Regions from separate parts of the Homo sapiens genome. Here region 1 is linked to region 2. A link means that fine-mapping ties the variant in region 2 to the expression of a gene that starts in the linked region. Tissue or cell type: whole blood. Region 2 holds a variant in brackets; the other region holds the start of a gene. All regions are shown on one strand. Distances are from middle to middle.

Region 1 (5,377 bases), 40 kb before region 2:
GTCAAGTATAATATAACTGATCTTTAATCTACTGATTATACTCAATTTAGCAAATTTGTTAACTCTTAAGAATATCTACTTTCACATTTCTTTGGCCTCTTTTTTTGTGTTATTGGTCATACTGTATAAAATCCTTTGTTGTAAGGTTCCAGAAAACATTTTTGAAAAAATGCAGAATATAAAACAATGCTTAAATTAAGCAATTGGTGTTCCTCAAATCTAAGAGGGCATTTAATGATAAGATGCAGCATTATTTTATATATCACTAAGATGCACTATTATTTTATATTTGAGTAAAAGAAAACCACAAGCCATTGGCTGGGCACGGTGACTCACGCCTGTAATCCCAGCACTTTGGGAGGCCGAGGCAGGTGGATCACGAGGTCAGGAGTTCGAGACTAGCCTGAACAATATGGTGAAACCCCGTCTCTACTAAAAACACAAAAATTAGCCGGGTGTGGTGGTGTGCAAATGTAGTCCCAGCTACTGGGGAGGGTGAGACAGGAGAATTGCTTGAACTCAGGAGGCGGAGGTTCCTGTGAGCCTAGATCACGCCACTGCACTCCAGCCTTGGCGACAGAGCGAGACTCCACCTCAAAAAAAAAAAAAAAAAAAAGAAAAAACGCCAATTAACTCTAAGATGGCATTGACTGTGAGATGCATTCCCATTTCAGAGAAATTAAAATTTGTTAAAGTGTTTTTTTGAAGTGTGCCTTAGAATTAACTACAATCGTAAATTTTTGTTTGGAACGTTATTTCGATGTTAGAATTCTATTCCACTTTTTTTTAAGACAGGGACTCACTGTCACCCAGGCTGGAGTTAAGTGGCGCGATCACAGCTCACTGCAGCCGCCACTTCCCAGGATCAGGTGATCCTACCACCTCAGCCTTCCCGGTAGCTGGGACTATAGGTGCCATAACCATGCCTGGCTAATTTTTTTTTTTTTTTTTTTTTGTAGAGACAGGGTTTCATCATGTTGCCCAGGCTGGTCTCAAACTCCTGGCCTCAAGCAATCCTCCTACCTGAGTCTCCCAAACTGCTGGGATTACAGGCATGAGCCACTGCGCCTGGCCCTCCATCCTGCTATTTTTATCAGCCAGTAACTCTCAACAGTGGGAATTTGATTTTGAAGCATTGTTCTTTCCCACTGATTCTGCACCAGTGGAGCCAAGGATGTTAATCGAGGAATGGTTCGGACATTAACTCTTCTAGTTGTAGTTTGTCATTTAATTGCAGATTGAGGTAGATCATTCAGTGACTATTAACTACCATAAACAGCAATAATAAACAACTTCTTTTCTTTTTTTTAAATTCATCTATTTTTTTTCGAGACAGAGTCTCGCTCTGTCGCCCAGGCTGGAGTGCAGTGGCGCGATCTCGGCTCACTGCAACCTCCGCCCCTCCAGGTTTAAGCAATTCTCTGCCTCAGCCTCCGGAGTAGCTGGGATTACAGGCGCCTGCCACCACGCCCGGCTAATTCTTTGTATTTTTAGTAGAGACGGGGTTTCACCATCTAGGCCAGGCCGGTCTTGAACTCCTGACCTCATGCTCCACCTGCCTCCGCCTCCCAAAGTGCTGGGACTACAGGTGTGAGCCACCGCGCCCAGCCACAACTTCTTTTCAAAATTGAATTCAATTCTGAAATATCTCAAGGGAGGTCATGGATTATTTAAAAGGAAATCACTTGCAACAATAAACATAAAACAATGCAGAAATAGTATAAACTCATCTAGATTGAAGAAACACAAACATTGAGTACTAGCATCTTCTTGGGATGACTTAAAATTAGGACAAATACTTAGTTACCTTACTACCCAAAGTGACATTTCTTCCCATTTTAGAGCTGTGCTGTCCACACGTACAATTAAAATTTTCTAGTAGCTAGCCAAAGTATTTAAAAAGAGAAATTAACTTAATAATTTACCTAATTTAATGTAGTATGTCCAAAATATTACCTTTTCAACATGCAATCAATATAAAATTTACTAACGAGATGGTCTTCCACATCTGGTGTACTGTTTACTCCACAGAGTGGCAAGCTGCCTTTCCAACCCTCACTTAGCCACATGCGGCTACCGTATTGGATGGCAGTCTTAGGGAATTTCAATATCAACTGATTCTTTAATTCTGAATTTGAGAATTTCTTTTTATAATACACACGGTCGCTAAGGCGCTTAGAGATCTGTGAGGCGCATGGAGATTATTTTACTCTCCGGTCCCTTTTGATCCAAGATCCCACAGCATTAAAAGCAGTAAGAGGGAAGGCAATGGGCATCCCTTGCGCCCAGGAACGTGGCCTGGAGGGCCTGGCTGCTCCGAGCAGTAGCAGTGCCCGGCGGGGAGGCTGCAGACGCGGCGTTGGAAGTTGGATTTCTAGACAAGCTCCGGCAGCTGCCCGGAACCCGTGTCTTTTTCTGGGGCACCCAGGAACAGCAGGGCCAGACGGAGAGAGAGCAGCCTCCAGCCAGGCACAGGGTCCCGAGCTGCCACCGACACCGAGGGAGCCCGGCCCAGGGCTGCAGCGCTTTCCGCCTAGGTGGGCGGCAGCGGGAGCGAGGAGCCGGAGGAAGCCCGGCCTGCGTCCTGCGGGCAGCAGGACACGATCTCCCCGGCGCGCTCTCGCCGGCGCCGCAGCGGGCGCGCGGGCGACAGGGTGGGCGTGGACCGATGGGGGCACCGCCCCTGGGAGAGGCGGGCGCCGCGGTTCCGGGGGCGGGACGCGCCGAGGAGTGGGGCGCGAGCCGCCGGTTTTGATTAGTGCGCGGAGCTGCGGCGGTGGAGCTGCTCGGCCGGGAGCCCGGCGGCGAGACGGAGAGGCGGCGGAGGTGCCCGCGCGCAGGGTCTGGTGGGCGGCCGCGAGGCTCGGGAGAGGCGAACCGGAGCGCGGGACCGCGGTCGCCCCGACCAGAGCCGGGAGACCGCAGCACCCGCAGCCGCCCGCGAGCGCGCCGAAGACAGCGCGCAGGCGAGAGCGCGCGGGCGGGGGCGCGCAGGCCCTGCCCGCCCCTTCCGTCCCCACCCCCCTCCGCCCTTTCCTCTCCCCACCTTCCTCTCGCCTCCCGCGCCCCCGCACCGGGCGCCCACCCTGTCCTCCTCCTGCGGGAGCGTTGTCCGTGTTGGCGGCCGCAGCGGGCCGGGCCGGTCCGGCGGGCCGGGGGATGGCGCTGCTGGACCTGGCCTTGGAGGGAATGGCCGTCTTCGGGTTCGTCCTCTTCTTGGTGCTGTGGCTGATGCATTTCATGGCTATCATCTACACGTGAGTGAGGGACCGCAGGAGGGGCTCGGGGCAGGGGTCCGGGCCTCGGAGACAGGCGAGAATGGGAAACGTTTGCGCTTTGAAGGGGACTGGGCTCGGGCGGGGGTGGAGAAAGCTGATCGTCAGGCTGTTCCCCCCGTTCCCTCGCCCCTCGGACCGGCGGTGGCGGTGGTCTTTGCGAGGGAAAAGTGTTGGGCGTGGGAAGGGTTTGCTGGGTTGCAGGCGACTGCCCAGCCAGGCTAAAGGAGACTGCTCTTACGTGTCAGGCTGAAGGTGGTGGCTTGGTTTGATTGTGCTGGGGATTCGTGTAATTTTTCATCTGGGCCGAGATGTATGGTGTATTGTTTTTTTCTCCCGACCTGGGCCACGTTTCTGTTAGGGTGGTGATTGTGTCCACTTTTCTGGGAGCTGCTCACAGCTATCTGGACACCTCTCTGTGGATTTTCTTCTTCCTGGAAGGGCTCTATGCGCTTAGATAGGTGTGAAGCACCTGTCCACCCTGAAAAATGTCCACCAAACCTCCGAGCTGGCATGATAGCTTTGAGTCCTGTCAGCTTGTACATCTCAGCGTGGTTTTCTTTCCTTTTTTCAGTTCCTCGTTTTATTGTTTTATGTAGATTTGTACTCTCCCCGTGCCGGCCACATCTTTTCATTTTTGTTTAACAAATACTTCTTGAGGCCTACTAGATACCATTCACTGTTATTGGCCAGGGGACATGGTGGTGAGCAGGACAGAATTCCTGTCCTCATGAGTCTTACATTCTAGAAGGAAGGAGCAGATAAAATCTAAATAAGGTTATGAGATTGTGACGAAGCGTGTAAGTAAAATAGAACTGGGTGATGGCGTGAATAGAGACATGGGTTATGTGGCTAGTTTGGTATATCCACTGTTTAAGGTGAAATCTGCCTCTGTAAAGAAATGAAAAAATTATATAGAGCACATTACTGATATCGATTCACTTGGATTTTTAGTCTGGGGGGAGAAAAGAGCAATTGTATATAGTAATCGTTACCATGAACTAGAATAGAGTGTATGTTAGTGGAAGAGACTTTAAGAAATTAGTTACTTTTAGTTTTTTGGTTTTTTTTTTTTCCTTTTTACTGCGGAAAAAGTGTGCCTTTGCTTTTGGAAACACTGTATTTTATTAGTATAGTGTGGCATTTCCTGGTACTGAGAAAGATGATGCTGGTACAGGTTATACTGATATTTCTTTGAAAGTGAAAGAAAACATGCCACTTGGATATTGTTGACTTTAGTTTTTGGAGTTGGTGAGCTTAGTCACAGCACATTCTGGAGTTCATTTAAAATATGTGAGTTCTTTTTCTTTAAAAAAATTGTTACTTTTTACCGTCATAAAAATAAAAAATGCTTACTGTGTAAGGAATTTATGCAATAGAGAGAGATGGAGAAAATTAAAATATGCACACACCAAAACTACATTACCTTGTTAACCTTTTGTGACTATCCTTCCAATCTGTGTGTGTGTGTGAGAGAGAGAGAAGGAGGGAGGGGAAGAGGGAAGAGAGAAAAGGACTATATTATGATTATTGTTCTGTAACCTGCTTTAAAGTTCATCTGTTTAATAAATGTTTATTGAAAAGCCGTTTTGTGCAAGGCACTGTTCTAGTTGCTGGAAGAGTGAAGAACAAACATACAAGGCCCCTGTTCACATGGAACTGTCCTGTAAAATGTCTTGACCGTTTTTTGCATGTCAATATCTGTATGATCTCTACATCATTTGTAATAGATGCATGATATTTTAGTTTACCAGGTACCAAGATTTATTTATTATTACTGATGGATGTTTAGGTTGTTTCCAATTTATCTAGATTACAAAGAACACTGTGATGAATTTATATGCATACATCTTTGAGAAATGATCTCATTTATATTTCCGAAAGAGGAATTATTGGGCCAGAAGTGGTGCACATTTTAAACTTTGATACATATTGGCCCCATGGAAATGTTATGTATATTCACAGTCCTGGTAACATTGTATGATGGCCCCATTTTGCCTTACAAACACTAAGTAGCAGGCATTTCACTGTTTTCTGTTTCTATTTTCATTCCTTTAAAGTTACATTGAGCACTTTTAAAATATGTTTATATGCTAGTTACA
Region 2 (5,377 bases):
CCGCTAAACTTGCTCGCCAGGTTGTGCTTAACTTGTGGTGAACTGGACTTGATTCTGTTTTGTTTTGTTTTTTTAAAAAAAAAAAACAAAAATGTAAGGGACAGTGCATAAGCCTTTTCTTTGTTAAGTAGTGGTGTTTTGCTTTTTCTTCAGGATTGGATGGCATGTTGTCCACAGGAATGCCTACTGCAGGGCTAACACTGGCAATATGGCAGCTTTAAATTCTGAGTTACTACAGTCTCCATGTCAAAGCATAATGTGTAGCATATCAGCAATAACTACATATTTATAGAAAACACTTTTTCACTTTACTGAGCCAATTCATTTAATTGTCAAATGTCTATATCCATGGTTTAAATGGCAACATATCTATAAGTATGTATACACATTATATTTAAGCTTTTCTCTGGGCCAAACTGCTTCATCCTTTTTTCTTTCTTTTTTTTTTTTTTTAGCCTTATGATGAATTTGTTTGAAGGGCATTTTCTTTATGAACAAAGGCTTGGATGCATATTCCTTTCTTTCTGTGAATGGGTATTATTCCCTGAGGAAAGTTGCACAGTGAAAACCAGTCTGGTTGTGACCCACTACATGTTTTGTTTTTAATCACTATTACCTGAGTTGAACTTTGCTCACCATGTTTGTACTTGTTGGTCTGTTTAATGAAGTTTGGTTGATGCCATCCTTTGCACTGCCGAAGCGTAATCTTGTGTATTACTTAGCTCTCTGCTGATCTCAGTATGGACAGTGTAACAACAAAACCAAAATGGCTGGACAGACTTCTTGTGTTTTGTAAATATAAACTAGGACAGTTCTGTAGGTTTGTTCAGTGTGCTAGTGGAGTATTTCCTTAATGTAAAACTTCACTTAACAGAGAGATTCTTTGTTTAGCAAGCTTGGAGTGATGATAAAATGGTAAGAAATAATATAAATGTTGAAGAAAGCATCACAACAGAACTATAGGAGTCTAAATTTAATAAATCTTTAAAAAAAACCAGTGTCTAGAATATATACCATGTTTTATTATTTAAAATCATTGTCTTAAATTTTTGTTCAAAAAATAAAAATTTGAATACAATCAAAACGTTAGCAATAGTGTATTTTTTGTTCTTCTGTATTTTTATAAGTAGCATGTTCCACCATTCACATCAGAATTATTAGAAGAGTTCTGTCAAGTATTCCTTTTGAAATCTTCCTTTTACCTGAGCCATAGGTAAAATAAATAAGGACATAGGCAGTCCTGTGACTTAAGTATGGCTTTTCTACATTGGTTGCCTGTTAAAATCACCTGGAGAACTTGTAAAAAAAAAAAAAAATACACAACACACACCCTGGGCCCTGTACACAACACACACACACACCCTGGGCCCTGTACACAACACACACACACACCCTGGGCCCTGCCCACATAGATTTTGGTGTAATTATTTTGGGTGAGGCCTGAGCTCTTCTACCCGTGATTCTACTGTGAGAATGACTGGCTCGTAATGACCTTTAGAAAAGAGCCAGTGGTCCTTTGGGCCCCTCTCCCCCCGGGCTCACAGCTTGAACTCAGCCTTTTAGATCTTACCACTCTAATGGCTAGAAAATGTAAATCCAAAGGAAGGAATGGAGTGGCATTATTACTTGAGACCCAGATGGGAGATGCACCTTACATACTTTCCAAGGCCAGGTCCCTCCCAAGCTGGAAGCCTTTACAGGCCTGTTTTACCACCATCCCATGAGAAAAGAATGTTCTTAACTGGAGAACAAATCCGGGGTAGAAAGAATCCGCTCTCAGCTGATATTTTTGTCTCTCCGTAGTTCCTGTGTTGAAACCTAATGCCCAATGTGAGGAGGGTCTTTCAAGGTGAGGCCTTTGGTAGGTGATCAGAGCCGTCAGGATGGGATTGATGCTTATAAAGGAAACCCCAGAGAGCTTTCTTGCCTCTTCCGCCATGTGAGGATACGGCAAAAAGGTGACCAGCTATGAACCAGAAAGTCAGCTTTTACTAGCCACTAAATCTGCCAGGGCCTTGATCTTAAACATTCCAGCCTCCAAAACTGAGAAAGTTTTGTTGTTTATAACCCACCCAGTCTATGGTATTCTGTTATCGGAGCCGTAAGACACAGTCTAAAAGGGATCTGGCCCAGTAAACAAACATTCCTTCTCATTTGTGTACTTCTAACCCTACAGTTTAAGAAATGATCAACACAAAGTTGAGTATGTCTTAGAATTTCATAGCTAGGTGGATCTTGAGGATCCCTCACCCTTATTTTAGAATGAAGAAGCTGAGACACCCACGGTGAGAGCTGTGATCATAGGGTTAGGTAGGCATGGTGCTGGTGGCAGAGCTGGGAGTAGCCCCTCTATCTGGTCCCAGTGTGGTATATTTCTCCGCTGGACCACATTTAAATTTATGCTTACACTGGCTTGAAAATTTACCTAGACCTTAAGGGGGAAAAATATCACAGTTTTAATAACCATCTGTATCCTAACTCAAAAATTGTTCTAGAGAACCAGATTCAAACCTGTAGAACAAGAATGTAAATTACTATAAAGCTCATTTAAAGTGAAATGCTTTACATACATGATTGATAAGATTGATGCATACCACAAGACTGTGTTCATGAGAATGGAAATAGTTCAGACCTTTCCTTCTGAAGTTTATCAGGATCTAGTGCTTGAGTTATTTATTTATTCATTTCAAGTTATAGTTTACGACCATATCAAGTTCATTTCGGTGAAAAGAAAGCAAACCGCAAAATGGTGAGTACCTGTCTCTGCAGAGCTGCAAGGATATGTGTTTAGTTGGGTAATTTGCTTTAAAAATATTGATACCTAGAAAAAAGTTTAAAATCACTATCCTAGTATTTTCTAAAAACAAAAATACATATCTTTAAGAGATCCCTAAGCAGCTAGTTTCCTAAGAACCAAAATGTGCTAAGCCTTTCACATGGCCCCTCCTCAGTTCCGAGAGAAATTGGCAGAGACTGTGGGTGTCTGGAATGGTTTCATGTGGTTGTGCTGTTTAGACTAATCATCATTAAGACATCCATGCTAATAGCATGGACTTGTAATTATCTAATTTAAGCAATTTAGGGATAT[C/T]ATTTATTCTTCTACAGGACTGAGAGTATCTGCACCCCTCCTCTGCTGCCTGCACACCCCATTGCGGTCATGCCACCTTTGTTTCCCAACCCTTGTCACCAGATGTGAAACCTCTATCATTTCCCCTCATGACTGACGGACACCAGGCCAGCCTAAGGAACATGCTGGAGAAATCCAGCAGACTATTTATTGTGCAGCTCTGGAGCAGGGGAAAGGAATGGGTTAGAAGTGGTGACTTGGGAGTAATTTCCCTAGAGGTGATGGCTGAGACAGTGACTATAACTAAAGTCAAAGTGCCATTTAGAGAGACAATGGAAGAAAAACATCTAGGAAAAGAGGCTGCCAAACCTGGGGTCCAAATGGGCTTTTTGGTAGCTATGGGACTTTAGGAAGCTTCCTTCATCTTTCTGAGCCAAGCTTTCTTAACCATGTAGAATGGAGATACTAAAGCACCTGAGGTGGTAGAGATGATTCGATGAGGTCATGTACATGAGCATAGGGACAGTTAGTGCCTTTTTCCTCCCAAAGAAGAAAGAAATAGTAAAAGGAGTGCCACAGTAGCCTTGGAAAGAGAGATTTCAAGAAGGAAGTGGTCACGGGAGGGGCCGTTGACCGTAAAGGATGAGAAGAGGCTGGTGAACTCTGGGGCAGGAAACTCCCTGTAGAGTTGCCAGCGTGGGTCTCCGCCATAGTGAATTGTCTCAGACGTTGATAGATGAAGTGTCTGCGTGGGAGTAATACAGCTTCTTTATGAACGATTTTTCTTGTTTTACACAGTGATATATTTTCTACAGTGAGAGACAAAGGGGTGGGACTTTCAAAGACAGAAATTGCTCCTGACCCTGAGAGCACCCATATGACTCTGATGCCAAGGAAACAGTTTAAGAAAGGCAGCTCCCAGGAAGCCAGTTCATCAGAGTGGAAGAAGCAGAAGTCAGATGCTTTAGGTTTGGCTGCGTGTGAAAAAGACATGAAAGCGATGGGCACAGATATTTGGAAACTGCAACAACGATGCATTTCCACCCAAGGTCCCAGTAATACTAAGCCAAAAAACTAAGCCTGACTTGAATTTGTGAGAAATGTCCTAAGAAGTTGGGTCATTAAGAGACGATGAAGGGGAATTGTCCATCCCCATCTTCCAGTCTCCTGACTTTATCCTAGACTGTCTCCCAACAGCATAATCGGCATCCCGGAAGCAGCTGTGGGCACCCTAGCCCTGCCCACAGTCTGCCCTTTTTCATTTTGTTCTGATTCGCTTATTTTTGGTTATATTGCTTGTTTTACTTCCTGCTTTGTCTCTACATTGACTTGGAGCTTGACTTCTGACTTCAGCTTCTTCCTCTGACCCCATGTTCCTCAGCCTTACTCCAAGCCCAGGAAAAGGTGGTCCTTAATTTTCTATTCTCATTTCACATCACCATCTCTCCAGCCTGAGCTCTCCACCCCCAACCCAATGGCTCACTCTCACCAGCCGACCCTTTTCCGTGTGGAACCAGAGCTTCCTTGCTCCCATGCTGTTTCCTTGCCCTGAAAGTTTCTCTCCCTTCATCCTCACTTTCCCTGTCTATGGGGATACTCTCCTTCTTTATTGTTGGTTTTTTTGTTTTATTGTTTTTTGAGACAGAGTGTCACTCTGTCACCCACCTGGAGTGCAGTGGCGCAATCTCTGCTCACTGCAGCCTCCACCTCCTGTGTTCAAGCGATTCTTGTGCCTCCGACTCCTGAGTAGCTGGGATTACAGGCGTGCACCACTACATCCAGCTAATTTTTGTATTTTTAAGGGGTTTCACCATGTTAGCCAGGCTGGTCTCAAACTCCTGTCCTCAAGTGATTCGCTTGCCTCGGCCTCCCAAAGTGCTGGGATTACAGGCGTGAACCACCGCACCTGGTCAACATACTCTCCTTTAAACCTCAACTCACATTCAATTCAGGACCTTTCCAGAGTTGTGTGTGCCCACATTTTGTCCCTTTCATTTTGTCAGGCATTTCACTTACGTGTCTGCAGGTCATTTCCAGTTTTCAGGGGCCTGGACTTTGCATATCTTAGTAGTCCTTTTTTGTGCTTTTTTCTCTTTGTACCCTTCCCTCCAGTGCATTCATGTAATAGTCACTCGGGAAAGGTCTATTGTTGACAGTCAAGCCAGAATCAAAACATTAATTCTGGCACATATGTCATTTAATACCTTTCCACCCTCTCATTGTGTTAGTAAGGTGTTTGCTATTTCATGCTCCCAACCCCCCCACCCTCACCCTACTAAAACAAAAGATTTCTCTACACATGAGTAAAAT

The links. PIP is the estimated chance that this variant, and not a neighbour inherited with it, causes the effect.
Region 1: it holds the start of UGCG, and the variant in region 2 is fine-mapped to the expression of UGCG in whole blood (TOPMed, PIP above 0.99).

What each region holds. Positions count from the first base shown.
Region 1 is chr9:111,894,057-111,899,433 of GRCh38, forward strand. UGCG (UDP-glucose ceramide glucosyltransferase) reads left to right here and starts at 2,758. Exons shown (of 9, transcript NM_003358.3): 1 at 2,758-3,257. The coding sequence starts at 3,160. RefSeq lists an enhancer at 2,209-2,792 and silencers at 2,413-3,002, 3,113-3,202.
Region 2 is chr9:111,934,286-111,939,662 of GRCh38, forward strand. UGCG (UDP-glucose ceramide glucosyltransferase) reads left to right here. Exons shown (of 9, transcript NM_003358.3): 9 at 1-1,084. Among named protein-coding and RNA genes, the nearest start is that of MIR4668, 4.9 kb to the left of the region's middle. RefSeq lists an enhancer at 3,600-3,909. The variant C/T (reference allele first, on the strand shown) is at 3,089.